Regions from separate parts of the Homo sapiens genome. Here region 2 is linked to region 1. Evidence: fine-mapped expression QTL. Tissue or cell type: blood mononuclear cells. Region 1 holds a variant in brackets; the other region holds the start of a gene. All regions are shown on one strand. Distances are from middle to middle.

Region 1 (5,715 bases):
TGTTGGTGTATAGGAATGCTTGTGATTTTTGTGCATTGATTTTGTATCCTGAGACTTTGCCGGAGTTGCTTATCAGCTTAAGAAGCTTTTGGGCTGAGACAATAGGTTTTTCTAGATATAGAATCATGTCATTTGCAAACAGAGACAATTTGACTTTCTCTCTTCCTATTCGAATACCCTTTATTTCTTTCTCTTGCCTGATTGAGGGCACATTTTCTAATCACCAGAAAATCCTACTATGGGCAGCAAAGGCCCAGCATCCACCTACTCTCCTATCTCTGCTACTCACATCTTGATGCCCCTACACTCGGTTCAAAGCTAAGAGCATTTTCTGAATTAATTAAAAACTCAGAACATAGCTCAGGTCCAGAGCTAGGGAGAAAACCATATGTTTTTTTGGTTGAAAGAAACCTTACATATTATTTAAGGCTAGCCTATCCCTTTCATTTGACAGATAAGGAAACTGTCTACAGAGCCTCTTCTGTATTGCCTCCTACTCTCACCAGGCCAGATGCCAGGCTCCAGCCAGGGCACCACTCAGCAGTATGTGTGACCCAGCTCAGTTTCAGTGAAGAACTATTATAATTGACTAAATGATTCCTTTCCTAAAAGCAACTTTATGAAGATGAGTAAAATGAGAAAATGAAGCACCAACCAACATTTTGCAAACTTATATACTTTTCACTGGTGCATGATGTTTTTGGAAGAGTTTCTGTTTTCTATGAACACTAGGCAATCTCTTTTGACTTTGGTCACTAGGCACCTGTGAAATTGAGGACATCTTGTTGCATTCATATTATTTCAATGTACACTGAATACGAGGCCAGAAAAAAAGAAAGAAGAAGAGTGGAAGGAAAAGAGATTTGTTGAATGGCCACTTGATTGTTGTGTTTTCAACAAGTCATGGACATTACATTGAGGACTTTTGACTCACTGGTGACACAGCTTTCAGTGTGTTCTGTTGTCATTGGTAATTGATCATATTTCACTCTGAAATGAAAGATGAGACTGACAAAAAATCTTGTTATAAAGCCCCTGGCTAAGAGGAAGGCAAGAAAGAAATACAGGTAAGCTAGTTTTCAAGAAATGAAATAAAGAACACGAGAGATCATGCTGTGGCCCAGGCTTAAAGAATTCTTCAATTCCCATCTGAGTTCTGTCAGTTACCTTGATGTTTCATGTTGGTTTTTCCTCATTATTTTACCCAGGTGACTGCTCCTGACCCTACATAGGTTAGGGGATTAACTGATGATGGTGATGTGCTTGGCATTCTCCATGCAAGGAAGGAGGCTGCCCCATCCCCTATTTTGGCCCAGAGCAGATAGCTGAGCTGGAGTGTGCTTTAGTCATGACTCTCCATGGTGTATATTTTGGAAACTGAAGACCCACCTGCTGACCTGGGCCTTGAAAACCTCACAATTCCAGCCTCCGTTTTGTCTGATCCCAAGGAAGATGAGACAAAAAAGCCACTACACCCCTGCCCCCATCTGCTGCTGACCATTGCTGGGGATCTGCACTCTTCCTTCTGCCTGGAGCGAGTGGGAAGTGACCCTGGAGGAATACGGTTTGAAGCATTGATGAGATTTCTGCAGATCTTCATCTGGGCAGTGGGGAGCGTGTTCCAAAATGTGAGAGACTCATTTAGGCAGTTAGTGAGGGTGATCCCATTCTCTCTGCTCAAAGTAGCAGGGAGGGAATGGGAAAGGCCCTTTTATGCAATACTGGATAGTGGTTCAGAGCCCACATGAAGGAAGGAACCCCACTTCCTGGTCAGAGTCCAGGTCTGCTGTTTATCAACCCTATGATTTGAGGCAAGTACCTTAACATCTCTATGCCTCAGTTTCCTTATGTGGGAACTGGAGACTTAGGCTTGCTATGTGAAGCCCAGTTCAGAACACTTTACTCATATTTCTCCAATTAATCCTCACAACCATCCCAGTAGGTAGACACTATTATTATCCCCATTTACAGATGAGAAAACTGAGTCACAGAGCTGGGAAATGGCAGAGGCAGCATTCAAATCTAAGCAGCCTGGCTCCATTATCAATGTTCTTAGCTGCTCAGTAGACTGGGGAACAATGTCACTTTTTTCATAGGGTTGTTGTGAGAAATAAATGAGTTAATCATGTTGAGTGCCTACCACAAACAGTGCCTCCCCCACTGCTTGCTTTAAGCAAGTGTTCACCAGATGCATGCTACCTCTTGTTAAGCTATCATGTGGGGCTGGTGACAAAGACACTGAAGTGAGAGAGAGCATAGGAATAAAGATGGGACAGCAGGAAGCAGTGAGGTACATCTGAGATGACTTTGGTCTTCTTTTCCCTGGCAGTCCCCTCTTCTCTTCAAGCAGCAAGGATGATATTATTGGGGTCCAAAGGTACACAATTTTATCTCTGCATAAAATTTCATAAAGAAATTTTGTTCTCAGTTTGCATTCGGTGATCTGTGATCCCATTCCCACACGTTTGAAGCTCTGAGCACAGGCAAAAAAATCAAATTACTCAGGCCATCCTGCCCCAACAGGCTCTTCCTTTCTGTTTCAGCTTCCTAAGAAACACCCTTTTCTCTCAGGGACTGACCTGTGTTCTGCTCACTGTGTTTGCTGCACAGCCCCAATGGCCAGACGCATTTTTTGCCCTGCTTTGCCCCTTGCTATGCACCAGGAGGCTGACTCTAGGAATCTCCTGCCAGCTGGCTTCCCATAGGGCTTGGTCAGCAGAAGGCACC[A/T]GCAGGAAATACAGGAGGAAAGAGGTCAGGGCACTTCTTCCTGTCTTCACTGGTGTCTAACAAAGCCTGTGATGCTTTGCTGTTGTAGCTCCCATGGAATGAGGGGAGTTCATTCACAACTCCTGTCCCCAGGGCTCTGGTAACTTGGTAACTCTATTTCCTCCTTTTGTCCTTTTGGCCCTAGGAGTGATCGTGGCTTCCCAGTGTTGCTGGTGTCTGGTGCCTTGTCACCCTTGTTTGCTCCTTATCCCTTTGCACAGCACTGTAAGACACACCTGATCCACACTCAATTTGTGCCATCTAGTTGAACTCAGGGCCTTGCCACGACCATGGCTGACACATCTACATGCCCAAGATCACTCTACCCGTGAGGCCCAGAGGTGGAGCCATATATTTTCCATTAACTTTCATTGTAAAAGTTAATCTCGCTGAAAATGTCAGATAGTACATTTTTAATATTTATTGACACTAAGATTAGAATTGATAGGTGAGCATGAAAAAGAAAACAAGTATCATACATATTCACCGCACACAAAGATAACCACTATTTTACTGTGTGCATTTTTTCCTATTACAAAAAAATGCATATACTATTGTTTATTGGCTGAAATATTGTGAACAATTTCCTTCATCAATAAATATACTTCAACATCAATACATTTCTTTCTAATACCTCATCAAAATTCTTAATGACTACAGAGTCATATCTAAGCTTGTACCATAGTTTAATGAGTCCCCTATTAGCAAGCATTCGAGTAGGTTCCAATTTTTCCTTGTTATAAACAGTGCTGCAATAAACATCCTTGTACGATATAAAATACTTGAAAATACAACACAATCAACTTAGTCTTCCTAAACCAAAAGCCACACATATACAGCAGCAGCAGCAGGGTCACTCCCTCTCAAGAGATAATAATATCTGCCTCCCCTGCCTCCCACTGATGTTGTGAGGTTCAACTGAGAAAATGTATATGTAAGTTCTTCATAAACTGTAAAGTGTATGGGGTGGTTATTATAGTATGAGCTTATTCTTTCGTAATAACCTTGTAAGACAGCACCATGGATATATCCTCAAGGCACATTGTACTGACAATTTTGCCAGACATAAAGAATTGAAAGCTTACTTTTAGGCTTTTATATATTTATTTCTCTTTAACACAACAAAGAGTTGTGTGTTAGAAAAGCAGCCTTCCTGTACAAGAGTAAACTACCAGCTGGCAGTGCATTCTATCTGTTCTGGTGCATGTCAACTCATTACATCCCCTCGAGAGGACCACTGCAAACAATTGAAGGAATTTGAGTTGCCTAAAAGGTCCCCATGGCTCTGAAAGTCCCTCCTGTAATACTGGTTACCCCAACTCCTAAAGCAGATTAGTCATAATGACTACTTTCCATTCCTTTCCTAATAGTCTCTTCTAAAAAGCACTTTAGGTAACTCTGCTTGATGAAAAAAAAATTGAGCAGCAGTTCCGTTTTTTTTAATGGGAACTTTTATGTCAAGTATAGAAGCTGCACTGACATCTCACATGAAAACCATCCCATCACTCAGCAAGAGGCACTCCATTTTGGATGGATTCTTGATTTACTTTCTGTGAATCTAAGTTCATGGATTTTCTGCTCTTGCTAACGCAATACTATTAAAATGTCAGAACACAGTTTCCTGGAGCAAGAGTCTTATATAGTTTTCAACTCTTAATGAGAGGCATCAGCCAAGTTTTTAAAATCTTGACTTGAATCATGCTTAATGCTATTTGTTAACTAGTGTGAAAAGGTTTCTATGTGTTAAAGTGGTAATGTTCTACCAAGGTAAATGATGTTCTGGGGCATGATATTCTATCTGGTTGCTTGCTTTCTATCCCTATTCGACTTTTTTACAAAAATTCAATGGAGGGGACATAGTCCTACTTTATAATGTTAAGAAGCGTTTTTACTTTAAGTTCGCTCAAATTAAGAAAAGACACAGGGCCGGGTGCTGTGGCTTATGCCTGTAATCCCAGCACTTTGGGAGGCTGAAGCGGGTGGATCATGAGGTCAGGAGATCGAGACCATCCTGGCTAACACAGTGAAACCCCGTCTCTACTAAAAATACAAAAATTAGCTGGGCGTGCTGGCAGGCACCTGTAAACCCAGCTACTCAGGAGGCTGAGGCAGGAGAATCACTTGAACCCGGGAGGCAAAGGCTGCAGTGAGCCGAGATAATGCCACTGCACTCCAGCCTGGGCAACAGAGCGAGACTCCGTTTCAAAAAAAAAAAAAAAAGGAAAGAAAAGAAAGAAAAGATACAAAGCCTCCTCTTGAACTGTTTTCTCAACTACTTGATCATCTGTGATCTGTGTCTCTTCTGGGAAGGACGGACAGGCAAAGCAGGGTCCAGTGTTCATGTGCTGAACGTAACTTGCCCTAACAGCACAAGAAGCCCAAGGGCTTGTTTTCTGTGTGAGTCAAGGAAACACCTGCTACCTCCTGAGACAAGCCCAATCCACGGGTATTGGCAAGGAAAGGTATGCAGGCCTTGCACAGAGATACTGAAATTGCTTTTGTTTCCTTCCTTCCTAATTTTGTCTCTGTAGATGTCTCACTGTTTCCATGGGTTTATTCATTTCTATCACCACCACTACCCCCACTTTTTTTTACAGTTGTGTATTCAAGCAGAGAAAATGAGTTTAAAAAAACAATTATGATAGTGAAAAAAAGAACAGATTCAAAACTGCCATATATGTGAGGCCCATGGGAGTCCCTGATTAATTTTCATTTTTATCATTTAGTTCTGAGATTGGCCTATTTTGGTAAATGTGAGAGCAAGTGTGGTTATGGACTTGATTACCTTGCAACCTTAAAAACAAATAAACCAGCTTGAGTCTTTTTCTTACCATGGTGGGTTCCTGTTAGGCAAGAACTGCAACTCCATGAGCAAGTTGTCCCAACACCACAGGGGCAGACCTTCATCACATAGCAACTCCCAAAATGGGAATTGGAGTGGATTTTAGA
Region 2 (5,715 bases), 69 kb after region 1:
AGAGAGCTATTTTTGTGTTTAGACATGAAAAAGCTTACAAGGAATCCTTTTCTTTCCTCTGCTGCACAATTGAGTGTTTTGAAGGAGAGCCAATACCTTGCCATTATCTGGAGAATGTGCAATCGGCACAAGGAATAAAAAGGGACGCATACAGCTGAGTCTAGAGCTGATGAAACCAGTTTATCTGAATCTGATTCCAGGGCATTTTGATGCTGAAAGGTGGTGTTATGACTCACTGAAGCTTTCACATCTATTGTTTTTCTTTTCCTGGGTGGCTTTGCCAAAGACCTTATAGATATCATTATTTTCAGATTACTGTTATTACACACATTCTTCTTGAATAAAATGCTACCTTATTTTTATCTCCATAGAGCAAAATCAAGTTTCGGTTGTTTTCTTATCTTCATATGTAAAACAGTCCCAGCGGTTAAGTCTCAGATGGGAAGAAAAATTAACTAAAGCCTTGAGCAGAGATGTCCAGACTGAAGGCTGACTTAACGGTTTCCCCATGACCAAGTGGACAGGGTGGCACACCCAATTCCCTGGACACATGCCAGAAACTGGGCTTAACCTGCATCATGAGCAAATAAAGTTTCATTTAAAGAAAAGAGTTTCTGCAATTTAGCAAAAATGAGTGACTGACGAGTAACACTATCCAGAAACTGACAGATTGTCAAACCCGCCTGCTACCCCTGGGTCATTTCAGCCATGGAATTTCTGGCCCAGTGAGAGCAAAGTCATTGCTTTCTCCCTTGACAGATTTCTCTGTGGAGAGTTCAGAACAGAAGAGAGAAATATCTGCAAGCTTTCTGAAAGCCATGGGGAAGCTGTGGGATGTTGTGTCCGGTGCCTGCGTCGGGCTCCATCTCTCTCCACAGCAGCTCTCATATGTATTTATGAAACCGTATGAGGCTCCCTGGTGGGTGGCACTTTATGGGTGAATTACTAGCTAAAATTCAAAGGGGTTTTGATGGCAAATAGTATTTTATTCAATTCATAAGCTTCTTCTCCTAATTCAGCATCTAGCCTTAAAAATAGACCTTTAGCAGAGGTTGAGCAAACACCTGCCTGTTTTGCTTTGGCCCAGAACCTGGGCTTGTCTCAGACCAGCTGGTTCCATATGGGCCTCTGTAATACGGTGGCCTGCAAAATACAGGATTCCCAGTTAAACTTGAATTTCATTACAAAGAACAAATCATTTGCAATATAAGTATGTCCCTGCAGTGTTGGGGATAGACATGTACTAAAAAATTTACTCTTTGCTTTTTGGAAATTCAAATTTAACTGAGCATCTTGTGGTTTTATTTGCTAAATCAGGCAGGCCTACTCTGTCCCAGTGTATAAGCATCACACCGCCCTTGGTTCTTATCCAACATCCAGACCTATACTGGGGCTTCTCAGAATGGGATTCCCATGAATTTGGGATGCCCTGAGAGGTAGCGTTAGTAGTGAAAAAGGGGACCCTGCAAGGTGGAGGCCTCAAAGCCAGTTATTTCTGCTGCCGCCCTACCCAAGGAGAGTGTAGATGGAAGTAAATATCTAAATGCCCTCATTAGGGTGGGGCTGTTCCAACACAGGAATTACGACACACGGCCAGACTCAGAGGCTGCCCTCTGTTCTGTGGCAAAAGGGTCCCAAAGTACAGCCCACTGCTTAGCCTGACTGCCCTTCCTAAGTACTTCTTAAAGACTGCGTGTCCCAACCGGGCTCAAGCCTGTAATCCCAGCACTTTGGGAGGCCGAGGAGGGCTGATCTCGAGGTCAGGAGATCAAGACCATCCTGGCTAACATGGTGAAACCCTGTCTCTACTACAAATACAAAAAAATTAGCCGGGCATGGTGGCGGGCGCCTGTAGTCCCAGCTACTCGGGAGGCTGAGGCAGGAGAATAGCGTGAACCCGGGAGGCGGAGCTTGCAGTGAGCAGAGATCGCGCCACTGCACTCCAGGCTGGGCGACAGAGCGAGACTCCGTCTCAAAAAAAAAAAAAAAAAAAAAAAGACTGTGTGTCCCACTTTATCTGAGGGGCCAATCTGCTCAAGACATTTTTGAGCTGCCAGTCCCGAACTGCGTGCTTAAGCCCCAAGAGCTAGCAGGTATCCGCAGAGCCCCTGCACAGGGCTGCTGGGAGTTTCCATTGGCCACGCCTTCTGACCTCAGTTCTGCACTCCCATGCTCATTAGCTCCCTGCATTCTTGGATGCTCTTGAATATTCCCCTGCTCACCCTTCTTCTCTTGCCTGGTACAACCTTGGTAGCCTGACCCCAGAACTGGGCTGCTTGCCCTGGGCACCAGTTGGCTTTGTTCCCAGGCATTACTGCTGGGATTCGCTCTGGACTCTGAAATATGCCTCCTCAGCCAGCCCGACTGCCCAGATCCCACCAGCCTGCTCTGTCCAGAGAGATGAGACATTCGGACTATTCAGTGTCCGTTCATGCCATCTGCTGGGATCATGATTTCTATACTCTGGTCACACATTACATGAATAATACTTCCCCCATTTCCTCAAAAAGATCCTCAGACAAGCTCAACCCCCATGTGCTAGTAGTTCAGGATTCTATGACCATCCTAAGTTTACACAACCACTTGGCCTTGGCTGGCCAAGACATGATGGTGTGGGAGCCTAGGAAGACCCTTCAGAGACGGCAGCAACCAGACTCCTCTTCTCACAGTCCCCCTCCAGCTCTGGTCTGTCCTCCTCACACAACCTCCCCCTCACAGTTTTGGGGTCTCATCTTTGGACCCTCTCTTGCCCCATTTTCCAAACACATCATCCCTGGCTGTATTAGGGGTCTCTGGGGCAGCCGCACTATGCTTTGATAGAGGGATGAGGTAAAGTTATTTTCCACTTTATTAACCTGAAAAAGCATAAACCGACCAAGTTTAGGGGCCTGAAGCATATTCTAAACAGACAGTGTCTCCTCCCTGACCCAGTTCTCTTACGGAATCATGGGAACCCATCTCCTCGACTTAGCAGCGGCAGACAGGCTGGTGTTTCTTGGCATTGTTTTCTAGGGCTGAAGCTGCAGTTTTCCTGATTTGGCCCTTGCATATTATTTAATTGTTTATCTTGACATACAGGTTTATCCCAGAAGGGGATGTTTAAAAAGTGGCATGGAGACCCTGGCTATAGACAGAAATGCAGCTTAACTTACCTTGGCTTCCTTCCTGCCAGACTCCTCCCAATTATTCTGCAGGCTTCTTTGCCCTGAGGGCAGTTTGCAGCTCCAGGGACTGGAATTGGCTTAAAAAAAAAATTCCTTCCTCTCTGTGCCCCATGTGAGGGAGCATTGTGTTCTCTCTAAATAATCAGCCTGGCTTTGTGTGACCTAACTGGACAGGGCCCTTTGAGAGATTTTTCAGTTGCAGAAAGAGCAGTCAGTGGCATCCTACAAAATCAGAAAGTTTTCAGACCAAGGAGAGAAGTCAGTGACAGCAAGATATTTTTTTCTTTAAGTTGTATTGTGACTAATTCCTCTCTCCCACTGGTGTTTAGAGTAATTAGGTAAAAGTGCAACAGAAGAATCCAAATTTATATTTTAGATCTAATAAATAATAACATTTAATCAGATGATCCCCATCCATTAACACCAAAATAACAAACAATTCAATGAATTATTTTAGGGTACTTACTATGTGCAAGGCATTGTCAAGGTAATTATTTCTTGCATTTACTGATTTCCTCCTGGGGACGCAGCACTAGCAAGAAGCTAATGGATTAGAAAGAAGTAGAAGGCCTCCAGCTGACAACCCACTCAGAAGAGAACATGGATCAGAATTGCCTGCCTCCATGGCAGGCACAGAGCTGGGAATTCATAAGCAGAAATTACTTCATTCAATCATCTCAATAGCCCTGTGGGGAAGACAGTAGTTCTCCATTTTACAGATGTGGAAACTGAGATCCAAAGACTATGTATATAGCAGGCAGAATGATGCCTCCCCTCCTTCAAAAATTCTGAAGGCTGTGAATAGGTTACCTCAAATGGCAAAAGGGGCTTTGAAGAGGTGATGAAAGGTTTTGCAGTGGGGATGTTACTATCGACTTTCTGAGTGGGCCCAGTGTAATTGCCATGGTCTTTAATAAGGGGGTAGATAGGAAGATAAGAGTGAGAATGACAGGGATGTGACAATGGAAACAGAAATTGGAGTGATGTCGGGTCATGAGTCAAGGAATGCATGCACCCTCTAGAAGCTGGAAAAGGCAAGAAAACAGATTCCTCCCCCTCCACCCCAAGCCTCCTGAAGACGCCCTGCCCTGATAACCCACTGTGAACTTCTGGCCTCCAAAACTGTAAGATATCTTGGTCCATTTTCTGCTGCTGTAACAGAATACCACAGGCTAGGTAACTTATAAATAACAGAAGTTTATTTGTCTTATGGATCTGGAGGCTGGGAAGTGCAAGATCAAGGGGCTGCATCTGGTGAGGGCCTTCTTGCTGTGTCATAACATGCAGAAGGCATTACCTGACAAGAGAGCATGCGAGAGAGAGAGAGGAAGGGAACCAGAACTTCATTCTTCTATGTGGAGCCCACTCCTTTGATAACTAACACACTCCTGTGATTAACAGCCTTGATCCATTCATGAGGGCAGAGCCCTCATGACCTAATCACCTCCTGTAAGACCATGTTTCAACATTGTTACAATGGCAACTAAATTTCAACCTAAGTTTTGGAGGGGATATTAAACTATAGCAGTTATACATTTGTGTTATTTTAAGCCACTGAGTTTGTAGTCATTTGTTGGAACAGCAATAGAAACTAATACAGTATGCCCCATTTGCATTCCACAATGGATTTGAGGTGGTCATAGACAGTTGCTCCAGAGTGGTAGAACCAGTCAGGACTGCATGCTATCTAACTGGCCCCTGGAGTTCTGCAAGGCAGGGGCCCTAGAGCAGGATTCAAGTGAAGTCAATGTGCCCTTAAAGTCTATGTCGTTTCTTTTTTTCTGATCTGCTTCCTCAAGATAAAATTTAGGAGCAAAATGAGTGAAATACCAGAAGAGAAATATTCTGTAACATGACATGTTTAATGAATGAGTAAAGAGTTCAGGAAATGAGTGAGTTCTGAAAATGAGTTACTGGTGCATGCTAAAGTGATCCGGGAAGACTTGATAGAGGCAATATAGTATAACCTGGGCCCTGCAGCATGGACAGATTGGAAGTAGCATTAGAGGCAAACAGGAGGCCTTGCAGCTGAGGGAATGACCTGATAGAAGAAATGCCCCTGGGAACAGAAAGGATAAACCAACCTTCCTAACCTGTATCCCCACCTCCTACCCTCACCCTATTCTCTGCCTGTGGATTCCATTAAATCTTCCAACCAAAGCCTTGGCAAAGGCTTTGAATAACATCCTGTGGTCTTCCTTACTTTACAAATGCTAAGTCTTGACCCAAAGAGATATATTTCGTCTTTCTCGCCCACAGTTACCAAACAGATCAAGTCTCCCAGGTCACTGCTCCCTAGTCATTAGGAACAAAGCGTTTTTAGTTTTTCAAAGTCAACAAGCATACTCTTTGTCTCTGTAGTGGCCAGTTTGATTCAGCATGTCCAAATGAGGAAAATTTGGATTAGAATTCCAGACTTTAACCCTGGCCAGGAAATTTTGTCAAATACAAGGACAGTGACTTGAGAGATACACTCTTAAACCATCTTTAATTTATAATTAAGTAAATTGTAAGAGGGGCAGCATCTGACTAAAAATGGCTCTAAAGCAGA

Evidence for each region. PIP is the estimated chance that this variant, and not a neighbour inherited with it, causes the effect.
Region 2: it holds the start of LINC03122, and the variant in region 1 is fine-mapped to the expression of LINC03122 in blood mononuclear cells (TOPMed, PIP 0.92).

What each region holds. Positions count from the first base shown.
Region 1 is chr5:61,703,991-61,709,705 of GRCh38, reverse strand. All of the region lies in intron 1 of LINC03122 (long intergenic non-protein coding RNA 3122), which reads right to left. Among named protein-coding and RNA genes, the nearest start is that of LINC03152, 8.4 kb to the right of the region's middle. The variant A/T (reference allele first, on the strand shown) is at 2,728.
Region 2 is chr5:61,635,284-61,640,998 of GRCh38, reverse strand. It overlaps LINC03122 (long intergenic non-protein coding RNA 3122), which reads right to left and starts at 3,218. Exons shown (of 2, transcript NR_126525.1): 1 at 3,153-3,218.